3 separate regions of the Homo sapiens genome follow, and regions 1 and 3 are each reported to be linked to region 2. Evidence: microRNA targets listed by miRTarBase, many of them from high-throughput screens and not tested one by one. Region 2 holds a microRNA gene; each other region holds the end of a gene's coding sequence.
Evidence for each region. The annotated mature microRNA hsa-miR-3650 reads AGGUGUGUCUGUAGAGUCC and lies in region 2 at 838-856, opposite strand. An mRNA with a match to its seed (bases 2 to 7 or 8) in the 3' UTR can be bound and repressed. Matches are read on the target gene's strand: a 7mer-m8 pairs with bases 2 to 8, a 7mer-A1 pairs with bases 2 to 7 and ends in A, and an 8mer does both.

Region 1: the mRNA of DIPK1C is a reported target of hsa-miR-3650. The part of its 3' UTR that is shown has no 7-base or 8-base seed match.
Region 3: the mRNA of KRR1 is a reported target of hsa-miR-3650. Seed matches in the 3' UTR shown: 7mer-A1 at 2,307-2,313.

The regions. Positions count from the first base shown.
Region 1 is chr18:74,433,675-74,437,031 of GRCh38, reverse strand. DIPK1C (divergent protein kinase domain 1C) reads left to right here. Exons shown (of 4, transcript NM_001044369.3): 4 at 313-2,257. The coding sequence ends at 531. Among named protein-coding and RNA genes, the nearest start is that of DIPK1C, 22 kb to the left of the region's middle.
Region 2 is chr5:38,556,703-38,559,702 of GRCh38, forward strand. MIR3650 (microRNA 3650) reads right to left here and starts at 859; the gene lies at 800-859. LIFR-AS1 (LIFR antisense RNA 1) reads left to right here and starts at 84. Exons shown (of 9, transcript NR_103554.1): 1 at 84-2,475. It also overlaps a transcript of LIFR not described here. RefSeq lists enhancers at 85-868, 221-330.
Region 3 is chr12:75,497,047-75,500,403 of GRCh38, reverse strand. It overlaps KRR1 (KRR1 small subunit processome component), which reads left to right. Exons shown (of 10, transcript NM_007043.7): 10 at 453-3,357. The coding sequence ends at 595. It overlaps GLIPR1 (GLI pathogenesis related 1), which reads right to left. Exons shown (of 6, transcript NM_006851.3): 5 at 1,684-1,710; 6 at 1-1,580. The coding sequence ends at 1,426. Among named protein-coding and RNA genes, the nearest start is that of GLIPR1-AS1, 8.9 kb to the right of the region's middle.

The DNA of each region.
Region 1 (3,357 bases), not on the chromosome of region 2:
ATGTGTCCAGTCCTTTTACAGTGTCACCCAGAACTTTGTCCATCTGCTAGGGGGCTGGAAAGGGAAGTTTCTGCCTCACACAGATGTTGGCTTCTCCTCTCGGAGGCGTCTTTTGTTCATGGTGCTGAAGGGTTTAAGGGGCAGAAGTGAAGGCATGTTTCCAAATCGGATGGTCTCTGGAGTGTGCTCCCTGAAGGACGGGGGTGGGGGTGGGAGAGAAGCTGAAATCTGTTTCAGAACCAATCCTGGGCTTGGGAAGCTTTTAGGAGGATTTGCTGCCCTAAATTAACTGTCCACCCTTCTTTCCCTCAGGTCATCTGTGACAAAATATTTCGCCATTGGTTTTCCGCGCCTCTCAAGAGCTCTGCGGTCTCTTTCCAGCTTCAGCTGCAGTTACAGGAGGCGGTGCAGGAATGTGCAGACCCTGGGGTCCCCAGTGGGAACACCCGGAGAGCAGCCTCCAGCGTGTTCTGGAAGCTTCGCCAACTCCTCCAAGCCACACTGAGGGAGCTGCAGGAGGCAGAGAAGTAGCCACTCTCTGGCCTTAAACATGCTCACACAGGAAAAGTGACCTTGGCTGGATTTCTTCTGCCATTGTTTTAAAGATGAGCCATTTCCCCTGTGCTCTCTGGGGTGCCGTTCTGGTCTCCACATTGTGGAGTGGCAAGTGCTGCTGCCAGAGACAGTGCTCCCTCGCTCTCGTCCCACCCTGGCCTCTGACCTGTCGCCTTGTGTAAAATGAGATGAGGGAGGAGGTACAGACCTCCCTTCAGGAGGGCTCTCGGTCAGAAGACACCAACCTGTGTGCACTTATTCTCTGCAGAGAGCACTTGTACCTGGTTATCCCAGCACGAGTTCCAGCTGTTCTTTCCTGTAAATCGTTACCACGTTAAAAAGTGTGCGTGTGTGCATACAAATGATGTGTATGCCTGTGTCTGGGTGCAAATGAGCATGTGAGCATGTGTGAGTGTGCCCATGAGTGTCTGCATGTGTGTGAGTGTGCACAGGTGAGTGTGCACAGGTGAGTGTGGTGTGCTCATGAGGAGTATGAGTATGCCTGAGTGTGAATATGTATGAGTGTGAATGAGTGTGTGCACATGAGTGCACGGGTGTCAGCATGTGTATATAAGTGTGGGCATGTGTATGTGATTGTGTGAGTGTGGGCAGGTGAGTGTGTTGGGGATGTGGGTTAGGGTGGGGAGTGGTGCTTTCTCTAGTGTGTCCTCCGGAACATCTTGCCTACCTAGCAAAGAAGTGTGACCATTCTTTCGGAATTAAATACAATAAAAAGAAAATAAGCTGCATCTTTAGGGAAGGGAATTTGCATTGGAGAGCGTGTGTAACGGCAGCTTATAGTATTTTTCATTTTGTGGAATCCACCAAGGTTATGGATGGGTTTTAGGGCGCCTCGTATTGCAATACACCTTCCCCTGGGCAGGGACTTGTAGGTTGGCTTGATGCAGCATTGTCTTCACCTTCAGAGAAAATTTAAAGTAGAGCAAATGCTGAGGTCTGCATTGACTCCAGGCAGGACCAGAGACCAGCACCTTTCTTTTGATGGATTGAAGACCAAGTGATAGGCATCAAATCCTATGGTGGCATGATACGCTCATCAGTGGTGATCCCAAGGAGGCTTTTCCAGCAAAATACAGGCAGGGGGACAGGCCAGGTGAAGCCAGTGAGCTTTCACTTAAAGGGACCTGGTTTCTACCCATAACTGTGACCCACGAGTGCTCAACAAACCAACGGGTCACCCCTTTTCAGAAATCCCATGAAAAGGGAAATCGAGAAAGATGAGAGAATCAGGAAGTCATGTTGGCAGTTTACACATTAAAGAAGACAAATTAATCGGACGTTGTGAAAGTCACAAACTGACACATTCCAAATGGTCTCTTATCTTGGCCTGCAGCCCCTTTCTAAACCAGAGAAACGGGAATGCCTTCTTCCAGACTTTGGGGTCACATTTACTGACTCTGCCCTTCAGGGCACGCTGAGAAATGGTGTGTGAGGGACTAGCATGATCAGAGGCCCCCAGCTCTAAATTCTGCCTTCCCCAAAGACCTGTTGGAAGGCCCACTGCCAGCTGTTATTCTTACCCATCACCACTGGGGATCTTCCAAATGACACAGAGTTCCATAGAGGGCCTCCTCATCATGGACATGAAGACTCGCTTTGCAATTGTATTCTAGCAAGAAGGAAAAAACCCATGTCAGTCACCCTGTGGCACGAGCAAATTAAAACCAAAGTTCAACGGCCAGGCCTAGGACTAGTGGATTCCAAAGGAAAGGGCGGGCTTCGGGCTATTGGGTGGAGGCTCCGATTTTCCCCAGAGCTGCGCTGGGTGCAATGCCTTTCTGTGGTGGTCGGGGCATACTTTGGGCCATGCTCACCTTCTAGGCAGGTTCTCTACAAGCAAAAAGGTTTACAGGAAGACGGGTGTGAGATGGAGGGGGGGAAGGAGGGAAGCCACCAGGGCTTTGCCCTCTGTGCCCTTTAAACAGTGGGGTTTCGCTCTGGGAGGTCAGAGTGGGTCTTTTGTGGGTAGACGCTGGGATGCCAGCCATTCATTAGTGGCCTGAGCTCACTGACCAGGCAGCAAAGCCAGCCTGGAAAAGAGAAATAGTTAGTTTTCATTTCAACCAAAATGGAAACAAATTGTTTTTGTTTACGATGGAGACTGTGCAATATATAATTATCCAACACAATTGTGGTTTTATTGCTGAAAGGGAGCTGTTTTATCTCTTCCCTTTATGTTTGGCTACACAGTTACACACACACACACACACACACACACCCTTTTCCATCCCTGCCTGGGAATTCCCATTAGAGCAGTGGCTCTCAAATTGTGGTGAAGCTCAGTTTTGTTTTTAATTTTGAAACCTTGCAAATCAATGCTTTTATATAACATAATAAATTAACACTGTGTATATCAATATTTAGTATTTTGAATATGACAAATCGGTTTTTTTCTGGCTGATCTAATTGAGCAACAACCGCACTCGTAGAGGAAAATGTCTCCCTAAATGATTTCTATGTTTTGTTGTAATAACACATAGTAGACAGAACACTCTCAGAGACATGTTGATGGGATCTGAAAAAGATTATAAAGTAAACTCATCAAGCTCAGGCTATTCCTCTTTAAGTTGTATCCAAATTAAAGCAAATGGTGCTTTATTCATGTCCAGTCCTTCATCAGGATTCCATTGCCACAGTTTACCTTGACAAATTGTAGTTAAAACTTCATTTGATGAAAAGAAAGAATTCCATAATTGTATACTCCATTGGCTTACAGCTGACAAACCTTAATACACGTGGGTTGTATAGAAATCGTAGGTGGCTCAGGAGACAAGTTCGTGG
Region 2 (3,000 bases):
CCCCGCCCCTGACCCGCCCCTGCCCCCGGCCCCGGCCCCGCCCCAACCCGCGCGCCCCCGCCGATCCCCGGCCGCGCGCCCGCGCGCGCGGGTGCTCCAAGGAGTCGGAGGAACGCGGCCGCGCGACGGGCCCCGGACGCCGAGGGTGGTGCTTCCTCCGAGCCTCCGGTGGTGAGGCCGCTCTCAGAAGGTCATGGAAGCGCAGGGGAGAGCGAGGCGGCCGAGCCCAGGCAAATCCTCGAGAAAGGCCGAGTGCGCGACGGCTCTGCGGGGAGGACCGCGCCTCCCCGAATGCGGCCGCTGCTGCCGCTGCAAACAGTGCCTTGAGGAGAGGAAAGCGGGGAACCGTGTTTTCGCCGCCTCTGTAACCACTGCACACAAGAAAACCAGCTTCTGGGAGAGGGGGATGATTGTTGGGACTTTGCGAATTACCTAAACAGCCCAGGGCCGAGGCGCCGCCGCTCGCGTCCTGGTCCTCCTGCCGGGTGTGGGGCTCCCCTGCCCGAGATGGCCAGCGGGCGCGCCGAGAGTATCCTGGAGCCATCTAGTCTTGCCTCGGAGGCGGGGTGGGCTTATTTGTGCGGAGAAGAAACGGATCTCTTAATGGGGTGAGATTTTTCCTCCGTACATTGTTCCCATTTCCGCAGTTTCACTTGGCCTCGGTTTTCTAGCAGAGTAATCACCAAATGAAATTAGCTGGAGAGCGTTTGATGGCGCAGAATCACGGTCTGAAGATGTTTACGCTGTATGCCGGACGCGTTTGATGGTGTTCTCTTCGGCACAATTAATTTTGCAAAGTTCAGAAATGTGCCAGACAGAGCCCCTGGCACGCAGTCAGGACTCTACAGACACACCTTGAGTAGGAAACAGGCTTGTTTGTTTCATCTGTGATTTATGTGATGCACCAGCACCAAGGCCAACGTGTTTTTTAAAGACCTTTCGATGAAACTCCAAAGCAATTTATAAATTGGCAAAATGAAGCTTGTTTTGTAAAATAACTCTTCCTTGTTGATCATGTAATTAAATGGGCAACAAAACACCTGAAAGGACATTTACTGAAAAGTAGACTCCCAAAACAAAAATATGTATTTCACAGCTAGATACGGTCGCTATTAGCGTCCTAATGGCCAACTCCATCCATGTGCGTATTTTGAACACTAAAAACGCCTCCTGTTACCCCTAAGACCTTGTTTGGATAACATTTTTCTATTATAAGTACTCGAAACCAACCCCATTTAAGATGTTTACCCTTATTCTTGAGTCCTTGATGGTTTGGGAAATTTATCATTATTCATATTGCACAATCCTGTCACTGTCTTTTCCATTAGGCACAGTGCCTAAGGTCCACAATATTTTTAGAGGCCCACAAAAAATATTTTAATTTCTTTTCAAATCAGAAGGAAAAAAAATTTAGGTTTAAGAAAGTATTTTAATATATATTAATATATTTGTTTTTGTGCTAATACAATCTTAAAATGTATGTATATATGTGTGTGTGTATATGTATATATATTTTAATGGAGTAAGGGGCTCAACGAAGGCAAAAAGGCCTAGAGCCCAAGAAAAACATGATGTGGCCCTGTTGCCTGGGGTTGAAAAATCCCATTCCATGAGAAGAATTTAGTTTTAAGAATATTACATAAAATGCTCATTTCTGTGGCCTTGCTATAATAGAAAGATGGAGATTCAGAGTAGTGATAATGGCTAACATCCACCTGATACACACCATGTGTCCATTACCTCTTAATCCTCACAGCACACCTGTGAAATAGGTACTATTCTCACACTTAGGGGGTAATGCAGGTTTTGTGGGGCCTGCAATTTATGCAATTTGGGTGGTCCTCTTAAAGAAAAAGCAAATACTGTGTATTAGTCCGTTCTCACACTGCTATAAAGAACTGCGCGAGACTGGGTAATTTATAAAGGAAAGAGGTTTAATTGACTCACAGTTCCACATGGCTGGGGAGACCTCAGGAAACTTAACAATCGTGGTGGAAGGAGAAGCAAGTACCTTCTTCACAAGGAAGCGGAAAGAATTGTGAGCGGAGGAACTTGCCAAACACAAAACCGTCAGATCGCGTGAGAATTCAGTTACTATCACGAGAACAACACGGGAAAACTGTCCCCATAATCAAGTCATTTCTCTCCCTAACAAGTGAGGATTACAATTCAAGATGAGGTTTGGGTAGGAACACAAAGCCTGACCCTATCCCACAGCATGTCCAGGCTGCCCTAGCACCACCCAATAGAAGGGAAAATGGCAGAGGGAAAGTCCTAGTGGAAAGAGACCTCAGTCTCAGCTAATTGTGGTGACAATATATTGCTTTTGCAAATTGTACATAAACATATGACCAGGTGAATGTATCGCCAAGGCTCCTGCCAAGGCCTGGGATGGAGGCCTAGAGAAGATGCCCGAAAGTTTATGCTGTGTGAGCTTCACAGAAGACCTGCCTTCCATGTATACCCATTTTACAGGTAAGAAATTTAGGGATTTGCCACAGCTTCTAAGGAACACCACATTCCTTACACCATACTGAGGTACAATTTGAAGAGTTGCGGTATACGCACTGTTTCGTGAGGAAAAACGGAGTTTCTGTAACAAAGCAAGAGCTTTAAAAATATGTTAGCAATATTTGACCAGGCCATAACCCAGCTTGGGGCACCTGACTGCTGTCTGTGCTGTCAAGAATAAATTTTTCTTATCTGTTGTATAAAAATCTGAATTAATCCATATGGACTCCTGAAGGAATTTCAGCTCAATTTCAAGTCTCATGGATTGAGACTATTTTTACTTACTTTGTCATAGACCAGTCTGTGTTGTAAATTCTAATTTATATAATATTTACTTTTTGCAATTTCATGAAGTGTTGCAAAATAAGTATCAGAACAAGAACGTACTTTGTTTGATGCTTATATTGCATAATACAACGAGCCTTATCTCCATAAGTGTTTGTTGAATAAATAAAATAATGAAACAGAGTAAGTCACAAAACTGAAGTA
Region 3 (3,357 bases), not on the chromosome of region 2:
GCTTAGGGTTAGCTGATTAAACTTATTGAGAAGGGATACATGTAATTTTAAATTATTTTAATGTGCAAGATGGAAAATAATGACTCAGAAGTTCCAAAATATGGAAAAGAATGTAGGTAAAATAATTTAGTCTGAAGTAGGATTTAAGGAAATAGTCTTAATATAGTTGAATCCAGTAATTGGTTCAATTATGCCATTTATGCCATTTTTATGTATACTTGTACTAATATATAAAGTATTTTATGATTTGTTTTATCTTAATCTGAAGAAATTTCTAACTGCTTTAGGCAAGTGTTTTTATATTTTATACTGTGATCACCTTTCAATTATTCAATTATAAGAATACTCTGAAGTTAACTGCCTTAAACATATATTCTTTGTTAAACATATATTCTTTGTTTTACTTGGTAAAATCTAAAGTATTACATGTGTTGTGCTTTTAATTTGTCTAGCTTCTACTGAAACTAAAATTGATGTGGCCAGCATCAAGGAAAAGGTTAAGAAAGCAAAGAATAAGAAACTGGGAGCTCTTACAGCTGAAGAAATTGCACTTAAGATGGAGGCAGATGAAAAGAAAAAGAAGAAAAAAAAGTAACATACCCAAAACTCCTTGACTAGAACTATCTCCTTTTGTAAAGGATTTTGAGATATCAGGCATTAGTTGCCTTATTTGTGAGAAATTTTCTGAGGGCTTTTTTTTTTTTTGGTGGTGGTGGTTGTTCATAGAAGAGTGTTCTTTATAAATTATATTATTATTGTATTTTTTGAAAAATTTATACGAGAAAGTGGTATATAAGTCTTTGTATACATTACGACCATTGTGATTATCCATTAAATCCAGTGTCTGATGCTATTGGTTAGTAATGATGTCCCAGCATTTGATGTTCCCTCTCTAATGATAACAAGTAAATATTTAGGTTTATCCCTTTTGAAAGTTTGGTTTTACTTTTAACAGTCCATGAACAGAAAATTAAGGCCTCTAAAATCAGATCCCCTAGTTACTCCTCTGTTCTGAATCTGGGGAAGTAGTAAACCAAAAAGACAGGGAAAACCAGATATTTAGAGTCGAAGCAGCATGCAAAAAATAATAATGTTTTTAACTAATGAAGGCTACTGGAGTTACTAAGAATCACCTAAAAATGTGCTACTGTACCTTGCTCATTTTGCAGATTTAGAAGCTGAAACATGGGTTAGGTTACTTACTAAAAGTCCACCTGTGGCAACCTGCAAATAATGCTTATTTATACTAAAGATGAGTTTATCTGATAGAGTTAGGAAATTTCTTCTTTTGAGTAAGAGTATTGCTATAACATATATTTTTTTCTGAAATGTTTTAAAATAGAAGTACACCTAATTGTTATTGGTTAAAAAAAAAGCCATATGTGAATGAGGTTGGTTTTTGGGTTTTTTCTTTCCTGAATTGTATTAGTCCAAAAGAACTAAATTAGGGTACTTGTGCTGTACCAAAATGGTAATTATAACAGACAGTATTAGAATTACTGAATTAACAATGAGAAAGAGAGAAGTGTATCTGTTACGTGGATATATGGGCCAGCCTGGATATACAACAGAGTAGTAACCTGTGAAACAAACATAGAATATCCTCTTAGACATTGTTCCTCATAATGCACTGACAGAATTCACATAGCTCTTAATGAAACAATTTAAGATTGATGTACGTACGTTTGACTTGGTCTCGCTGTCGGTTAACTGTAAAGTTAGGGGGAAGAAAGAAAAAAAATTAAAAGGGTAGACACAGTTGAGAGTTTTATTTTAAAAAGCTAAGTCTTATAATTATGACCATTAACTTGCTTTGGCTTTATTGCAGTGACTTTCCAAGTTTAATTATTCAAAACTTTTTGAACTGACTGAATTAACTTGGTATTTTTAAGTTGACTTTTTACATAAACTTTATAAACCTTTTATAAAAAGGAAACTATACCATTACTATAAATGGAAAATCATTTTACACATCATACCTAGCAGGTAATAAAATTTAAAAAATAAAAATTAAATATTAGAATGTGAGAAATTTATTAAAATATAGTTCTAAAAATAAGTTTCTTCCTGAGAAGAATGATACTGTTTATGATGAATCCATAGTGAAAAGACAGTGACCTCTCTTTCATCCAGTCTAGTATATCACTAAATCATCATTACGATGTTTGGCTATCAAGTCATTAATTACTGTCCTCCTTTCACTGAGCTTTATTCAAATTTTGACAATCAGAGCACTGGGAAGAAATAAATTCCACAACTGCCTTTAGCCTTCTGGATACTTTCTTTTATAAAATAGAAACCTTTTCCACACCAGTTCTGCAGCAGTCGCTATTAGATGCTCGTGGTAGAACCCATCAATCATCTGGTCCTCTGGGTACTGGTGAGCATCCCTGGTCTTCATACCTGTGAGTGGGCTTTGTGGTGAATTACTGTAAATATGCTACCCTCACTTTTCTTGGCAGTTATGTCGATGAAATCAAGAGTGTGATGTTCTAGTTATTTTTTTTTATATATATTTTTAAATGTTCAATATTCAACTATTGAAACAAATGTACATCTGTGAACTAGCTAAAATCATCTTATGTACCACTAATATGCCCAGCACATTTTGTAAAACAGTCCTGATTTGGCCTCCAAGGGTATTTATTGAACTACCAGCAGTATCTAGGAGACCACGAAGGAATACCACGAAGGAATTTATGCTCCAGTGCTTGCCATAATTTGTCTGAGAAGGAATCTGTTAAATAAAAGCTTTTATCCTCTAACCTTTACCTTCATCAGACCTTATAAAAGGTCAAATGGTGATTCTTAAGTTTTTTAGTCACAAATCTTACTTATTCAGTATTAGTGCGAAGAGTAGAATACTTTCAAGTAAGCCTAAACTTACATGAAAACAAATTACATAAATCTAGCTCTGAGAATAGGAAATTAGTGACAAGATCAATCTGTAAGATGTTGAGCACTTATCTGAAGTAAATGGGTAATGAGTTTCACATCTTATAAATACAAGTTAGCATGTGTTTTCTCAAGAGTCCAAGGGTTTTCATTATTGGACTACAGCTTTAATCTTCTAAATGTTATTCCCCAAGATTAAAGAGCATCTCAAGTTAGATCACCAAAGATCAAAAGCTAAAACCAGAAGTATTTTTGTCATTGTGGTGGTGGTAGTGTTACTAATTGCCTAGATTTTTAAAGGGAAACATTTTTTTCACTGGGTTGTTTCGTTGAAAAAAATAGAAGCAGAAACTTGCCCAAAGTCACAGTGGTCAAACTGGAAATTGCACCAAAACTTGGCATACTGGTTCTGAAATCCATAGTTTTAGCCCTTATGTATACTGGTTAATTTGGAAGGAAGAA